Linked DNA regions of Homo sapiens. The protein of the gene in region 1 binds, or shares a complex with, the protein of each later gene. Each region holds a gene or a part of one and is shown in the gene's direction. Other genes may lie near its edges.

Region 1 (3,918 bases):
CACAGTAATCTTTTTGTGACTATACCTATTTTATTTAACCAAATCTATTTTTTAGGTATTTAAATTATTTCTTTTTTTATAATTTCAAATAATAAGATGTACTTTTTAAATATAAACCTTAGTGCATAATTCATTATTTAAGGGTAAATCCATAAATGTAGTATTAATTCTCCTTTTAAATTTCTCCTTTAACTCACTCATAAGATCTCTGAACTAGGTCTCCCCCTTAACTCACATTAAATGTAATCTGCATTTTGTTATGTACAATGCTCCCTAGGAATTTGGGGAGCCCTGTGCTGGTCACTGAGCTCCCTCACTTTTATACCAGAGTAAAATGAACATTTAGGACAGTATTGGATAGAGAAACAAGGACACATGCCCGAATGGAATTGATAGAAGATGGAATCAGATTTGTCAGATTTACCCCGAGGCTTAGCAGTATTTCAGAAATCTGATGAAGTCTTTATATATAGTACATGGCAAAGCAAGGATTTGGTTTCAGGGATCCTACCTCCAAAACGTGTTACACCGTCTTATCTGAATACAGGAGTCGAAATCTTCCTTCTGCACTCTCTGTTCTATCTGGATCGTTCTAGGCCTCAACTCTCTTCGTATCCCCTCTGTATCTCTTCCCTTGATTCCACCTATCTTCTGCTGGCTTTCTGAGGTTTAGCACTGTAGGTGAAGTAAGGTCCTTTCAATAGTACCTTTTTGACTCACAGCTGATATCTTTCTTCTCTTGTCTTCAGCCTGAACAGAAACAGATGGTGGCCCAGCAGGAATCTATCAGAGAAGGGTTTCAGAAGCGCTGTTTGCCAGTTATGGTACTGAAAGCAAAGAAGCCCTTCACGTTTGAGACCCAAGAAGGCAAGCAGGAGATGTTTCATGCTACAGTGGCTACAGAAAAGGAATTCTTCTTTGTAAAAGTTTTTAATACACTGCTGAAAGATAAATTCATTCCAAAGAGAATAATTATAATAGCAAGATATTATCGGCACAGTGGTTTCTTAGAGGTAAATAGCGCCTCACGTGTGTTAGATGCTGAATCTGACCAAAAGGTTAATGTCCCGCTGAACATTATCAGAAAAGCTGGTGAAACCCCGAAGATCAACACGCTTCAAACTCAGCCCCTTGGAACAATTGTGAATGGTTTGTTTGTAGTCCAGAAGGTAAGTTTTCATATCTAATTTCATATTGATTAGTAAGAATAACGTATTTCCCATCTGATCTTAAAGAAACTTTGGAAATGGTTTTAATGTCTTTCTATATAGACAAAATAAAAAAATACAAAGTTCTAAAGAGCTGCAGAGTAAACATGCCAAAATTCATACAAAAACTCAAAAATTGTTTTTATTGTCAAAAATGTCACGATCCTATTTCAACTTACCCCAGTAGCCTCTGAAAAAGGAATTAGTTCATTCACATAATTTTTATTTCTGCATTATTTTTGTACTTTGTACATATTATCTTTATTTTAAGTGACTATAGTTGTGATTATCTTTATTTTAAGTGACTATTGTTGTGAATGCAAAGTAAGTGTAGTTGAGTAATAAACCAGATTAATGACCTGAAAAACCAATACGCAAGGCAGGATTAAAGAACTGTGATTAAATGAAGAAAACAGAAGAAAGAGTTAGCCTGAGGAGACTTTTTTTTTAATTAAAAAGTAAACTTTAATGTCAAAAATGCAAACTGGGGGAAGACAGAAAAGATCACACACAAGGCTGTCACTTCACACTTGGAAGGTTGCACGGCGGCCGGGCAGAGGCGCTCCTCACTTCCCAGACAGGGCCGCGGGGCAGAGGCGCTCCTCCAGGATACTTATTAGAAGTGAGAAATAATAAAGTATTTATTATGATTCTGAGCCTCAGGGAACTAGCCTTGTGGGATGACTTTTTCTGGTCTAGGGCAGGACCTAAAGAACCATAGAGAGAGAACCTGCTGCCCCTGCATTCAGAGCCTCAGAATAACCTCTGCTGCCCTGGGTTAGTTTCAGAAGGAATTGATAGGAAGACTCTCCAGTCCTCCTGGAAAACTCAAGTGTAAAATGACCTTGGATAGGAAAGTCATGTTCTTTATCCCAGTTTTCAGCTTTCAATCTGGCCAGCTATCCACTCATATATACTGATTTAGTCCATAAAATTAAACCTAAAATACGATCAATCTCCTAAATAACTGACCAACCTCCTGTTCCCTTTGGATCTAGACTTGATTGTGAATTGTTTCTTGTCTTTGATTACTTACTAGACTCTTGGCTGGGTCTTGCATCATTACCTCATGTCTCTCCTGGACTTGTTTTAAATAGCTCTCTTCAGGCTGGGCGCGGCAGCTCATGCCTGTAATCCTAGCACTTTGGGAGGCCAAGGCGCATGGATCACCTGAGTTGAGGAGTTCCAGATCATCCTGGCCAACATGGCAAAACCTGTCTCTAGTAAAAATACAAAAATTAGCCGGGTGTATTGGCGGACACCTATAATCCCAGCTACTCGGGAGGCTGAGGCAAGAGAATCGCTTGAACCCAGGGCGTTGGAGGTTGCAGTGAGCCAAGATTGCGCCATCGCACTCCAGCCTGGGTGAAAGAGCGAAACTCCATTTCAAAAAATAAACAAATAGAATAAATAGCTCTCTTCCAACCCAGGGTCTTCTTTTTTCCCTTGACTAATCTGGCTGCTGGCCCTGGAGAAGCTCCATCTTCTCTATCCAGCAGTTGTTGCTTCTATGGGCCACCCTGGCCTCCTCCTAAAGGAAGGGAATTTAGGACTGGAAAGATAGGCATAGGAGACAACATGTTCTAAGTAAGACACGTCTGCCTCCTCTGTGTGAACTTGCTAACATCTATTAGATATATACCTGCTAGTTTCAAAGCAGAAACATTTTTTCAAGTTGTCCCTTGAACAATGTAGGGATTAGGGCTTCTGACCCTGAGCAGTTGATAATCTGCATATAATTTTTGACTCCCCAAAAACTTAACTGCTTAATAGCCTACTCTTGATCAGAAGACTTACGGACAACATAAGCAGTCACTTAACACATATTTTTGTGTTATACATATTATATACTATATTCTTAAAAAGTAAGCTAGAGAAAAATGTTATTAATAAAATTATAAAAAAGAAAATATACTAACTATTCATTAAGTGGAAGTAGATCATCATAAAGTTCTTCATCCTCATTGTCTTGATGTTAAGTAGACTGAGGAGGAAGAGGAGGGTTGGTCTTGCCATCTTGGGGTGGCAGAGACAGAGGAAAATTCCCATATAAATGGACCTGCACAGGTAAAATCTGTGTTGTTCAAGAATCAACTGATTTCTTTTTAGAGCCTTCTTCTGGCATGTCTGATGTGTGACTGATGCGGCATTCATTAATCCGATTATCAGAGGCTGGGTGTTGATTTTCTTTTATAGGTAACAGAAAAGAAGAAAAACATATTATTTGACCTAAGTGACAACACTGGGAAAATGGAAGTACTGGGGGTTAGAAACGAGGACACAATGAAATGTAAGGAAGGAGATAAGGTTCGACTTACATTCTTCACACTGTCAAAAAATGGAGAAAAACTACAGCTGACATCTGGAGTTCATAGCACCATAAAGGTGGGAACTGCATGGAACAAAGTCAACTCTCCAAGGGGGTGATATTTTTTGTTTTCTATCAGAAAGCCGGACTGGAGCCATTGAACAGGATATAGAGTGGAAGACATTGATATTTAGTACACGTTCATCTCACAGAACTGAGGAACCTCCCTCTTAGGAAACATGTATTCTAGATACACAGTTAAGAGAACATGGGCTTTTCAAGGCAGAGGCGCATATTGTTGTGCCCACAGAGCCCAAAAAAGAGCTCCTTATTTATACTACAAGTCTAAAGCAGAAAGCTTGCCCAGAGTCGGAAAAGTCATTCTGACTAATGTCTTTGAAA
Region 2 (3,918 bases), on another chromosome or scaffold:
TAGCCACTCAGGAAGCTGAGGCAGGAGGATTGCTTGAGCCAGGGAGTTCCAGGCTGCAGTGAGCTGAGGATGTGCCACTGCACTCCGGCCTGGGCAACAGAGCAAGACCCTGTCTCTTAAACATTTTGGGGGGAAAAAAAAAGAAAGAAAGAATGTCCGATTGAAAAAGGCAATCAGGTGTTATCAGTGGCCAAAGAATGGAGAAGGGGAGCTCACCTCTGCAGGCGTCTGCTTGCCAGGGATGGGAGGCAGGGCGATTTTAGAGTCCAGGGAGGGGAAGGGAGATAGGTAAGCAGGCCCAGGGCAGGGTTCCATATGTGCAGGCGCTGTCCCCAGCATGCTTCTTCCTACATCGCATGGACACAAAACCCTGGCCATCTTCTTTTAGGGGAGGGACCTTTAGCCTTATAACAATGTGTAAATGATCTTAAGGTAACTGGAAGTCACCTCTTCCAGTTTGCACTGGTTTTGCTCTGATCTTAACTTCCTCTGGTTTTTGGCAAGGGATCAGGAGGCTCCAGGCCATCTGGATTTTTTTAAGCAGCTGTCCCTATAGGTAAAGAGACTAAAAAAAAACTGTAAAAGAAAAATGCCACCAGTTTAGAGGGTACCGAGGCTATCCAGGTGACAATTCCATGCTCGTGGTGGGGGCAGCATTCAGAAACACACTTTCCTTTTTTTTTTTTTTTTTTTTTTTTGAGACAGAGTCTCAGTCTGTCTCCCATGCTGGAGTGCAGTAGTGTGAGCACAGTTTACTGCAGCCTCAACCTCCTAGGCTCAAGCGATCCTCCCACCTCAGCCTTCCAAGTAGCTGAGACTATAGGTGCTCACCACCACACCTGGTTAATTTTTTTTTTTTTTTTTGTATTTTTTGTAGTTACGAGGACTGTCTATGTTGCCCAGGCTGGTTTTGAACTCTTGGGCTCAAGCGATCCCCCGCCTTAGCCTCTAAAAGTGCTAGGATTTCAGGTGTGAGTCACTACACCCAGCCTATGGAACACACTTTCCAATGCATTGTTGGCTGGAGAGGAGAAATCACAGCACTCAAGGAGGAGAAATAGAATTGGGGGTCCAGGCCGGGTGCGGTGGCTCATACCTGTAATCCCAGCACTTTGGGAGGCCAATGGGGGCGGATCACCTGAGGTGAGGAGTTCGAGACCAGCCTGCCAACATGGTGAAACGCCATCTCTACTAAAAATACTAAATTTGCTGGGCGTGGTGGCGGGTGTCCATAATCCCAGCTACTCAGAAGGCTTCGAGGCAGGAGAATTGCTTGAACCGAGGAGGCAGAGGTTGCAGTGAGCCAAGATCATGCCACTGCACTCTAGCCTGGGCGACAAGAGCAAAACTCTGTCTCAAAAAAAAAAAAAAAAAAGAATTGGGAGTCCAGGGACCCCTGAGACCTGGGAGGGGAAAGGATGTGGTATGCTGCATGAGTCTTCAAATCCAGAAGTCCCTGGGTCTTCCAGTGAGAAAGGACCCTGGGATCTGGAAAACCTAGCATCCTTAGGAATAGTGACCTGAAAAGTACTGAAGTATTTCCCCCCTAATTTTCTTTTATCCCTACTGTATTTTTTTTAATTTTTTTTTTTTTTTAGATATGGGGTCTTGCTATGTTGCCCAGGTTGGTCTCGAACTCCTGATCTCAAACAATCCTCCCATCTTTGCCTCCGAAACTGCTGGGATTACAGGTGTGCACCACTGCACCAGGTCCCCACTGTATTTATATCATTGGGATTCCTGGGTGTCTTCTAGGGCCGCTTCGTTAATCTGATGCAGGCTTAGACCCTGAAAAATGCATATATGCACAGCTTCACAAATGTCACATCAAATTTCAGGTAGTTCTTGGACACTCTGAAGACCATCTTTAGAATCCAAGGGGTTTATGGACACCAGGTAGAAAATCTGGGGAAGACTGGTTAAAAATACTCCCTCTCACAATAACCTCACAGCAATGCATCATCATGGGGTTGAGATTCTACCATTTGCCTTTCTCTCAGCAGAAAGAAAAGCCTATTGGCTAAAGTCCTAACTATCTACTGCTGAGGTAGTCATTAAAATTATGTTTGGTTGTGAATAATAGAAACACCCAAATAACAGTAACCTCAACAGAAAAGAAGTTTGTGCCTCCTTCACATAAATGATACACAGGCGGTCCCAGGCAGATCCGTGGGCCAGGACCCTGGGGTCCTGCTGTTGCTCTGTCCCACCAAGTTTGTCCTCAAGCTTCTGCTCTCAGAAGGTGACGTCCTCATGCCAGGCAGCAAGATGGAGGAACAGAGGGGAATAGTATCCCTCGGGAAAGCTCTAGAAGTTTCTAGAAGCTGCTTGTGACACCTCCATTTACATCCCTTTGGTCATATTATTGTCAAATAGCCACACCTAACTGCAAAGGAGGCTGAGAAATGCAGGGCATTTGGGGGGCAATGGGAGGCAGGGAAACAGGGAAACGTGGACAATTAATTCTATCACGAGAGAAGGAGGGAGAATAATTTCTGGTGACTACTAGCAGTCTCATTTACAGATGTGCTGTGAATTTCTGGGACACTGTGAGGTGGGAGGAGGTAGCAGGGGCTAAAGGATTGAGTGTGTTTCTATTTCTTTTTTTTTTTTTTTTTTTTTTTGAGATGGAGTCTCTCTTGGTCACCCAGACTGGAGTGCAGTGGCGCAACTTCAGCTCACTGCAAACTCCGCCTCCCGGGTTCAAGCAATTCTCCTGCCTCAGCCTCCCGAGTAGCTGGGATTACAGGTGCCCACCACCACGTCCGGCTAATTTTTGTATTTTTAGTAGAGACAGGGTTTCACCATCTTGGCCAGGCTGGTCTTGAACTCCTGACCTCATGACCCACCCGCCTCGGCCTCCCAAAGTGCTGGGATTACAGGCGTGAGCCACTGCGCTCGGCCTTGTGTTTCTATTTCTTCTTGTATCTCGTGGCATGTCTGCTTATGAAGTTGCAATTAGAGTCTTGGAGTAGAGCTATTCATAACTGTTAGGTCTTCATGATGAGTTCCAGTCTTTAGCCCTATAATGCCCCCCTTCTTTGCTTTTTCTTTTAAGATGGCATCTTACTCTGTTGCCCAGGCTGGAGTGCAGTGGTGCAGCATCAACCTCCTAGGTTCAAGCAATCCTCCTGTCTCAGCCTCCCAAGTAGCTGGGATTAGAGGTGTGCACCACCACACCTGGCTAATTTTTTAATTTTTTGTAGAGGTGGGCTCTTGCCATGTTGCCCAGGCTGGTCTCAAACTCCTGAGCTTAAGCAGTCCTCCCACCTTGGCCTCCCAAAGCACTGGGATTATAGGCATGAGCCACCACCCAGCCCCTTCTTTGCTTTCATTTAATGGTTATTGAACTCATATGTGAGCAGTGGTCTATTTATTCCTTCATTCAATACTCATTTTCCAAATGCTTGCATTTGCCAGGTACTCTGCTAGGGGCTGGGATCCAGCTAGGAGCGAGGTACACAAGTCACCATCCCCTGGAAGCCTCCACTCACGTTATGGGCAGCCAGGGATGGGTTCAAGTGGCAAAGGAACACTGGTCAGAATGTCTCTTTCCTTGGCATCACCTGCTAGATCTATGTCTGTGCAGGAGGAACAGCACAAGGCCATGGGTCTTTCTTTAGGATAAATGCCCAAGAATTCCAAGGCTCAGGAATGTCTGAGGTCTGGCCCTTAGCTCTCAGGCCCAGTGGCCTGTTTGCTTCCTCACTGGATGGAAGTCGGGGGAGGACAAGCTAGGAAGTGGGCAGAGTCTAACTGAGAACTCGCACATCTCAGGCAAGGGCTGTGTCCGCTGTGCTTTGTGATACCTCTGTGTAAGCAACTTGGGTTTGCCATTCAGGGGGTTTTTCCACTGCATGTCCCCAGGAAGGCCACCAGACACGGCTGCGAGTCCCCGCTGCCACGCCCAGGAAGGAG

The links.
Region 2: AIM2 (region 1) and MEFV share a complex: the UniProt entries of both Homo sapiens proteins name them as parts of the AIM2 PANoptosome complex.

What each region holds. Positions count from the first base shown.
Region 1 is NC_000001.11:159,063,161-159,067,078, reverse strand, and holds part of AIM2 (interferon-inducible protein AIM2), read left to right. Parts: intron 1-749; coding exon 750-1,169; intron 1,170-3,404; coding exon 3,405-3,593; intron 3,594-3,918. UniProt on the Homo sapiens protein: Sensor component of the AIM2 inflammasome, which mediates inflammasome activation in response to the presence of double-stranded DNA (dsDNA) in the cytosol, leading to subsequent pyroptosis.
Region 2 is NC_000016.10:3,249,730-3,253,647, reverse strand, and holds part of MEFV (pyrin), read left to right. Parts: intron 1-3,867; coding exon 3,868-3,918. UniProt on the Homo sapiens protein: Involved in the regulation of innate immunity and the inflammatory response in response to IFNG/IFN-gamma.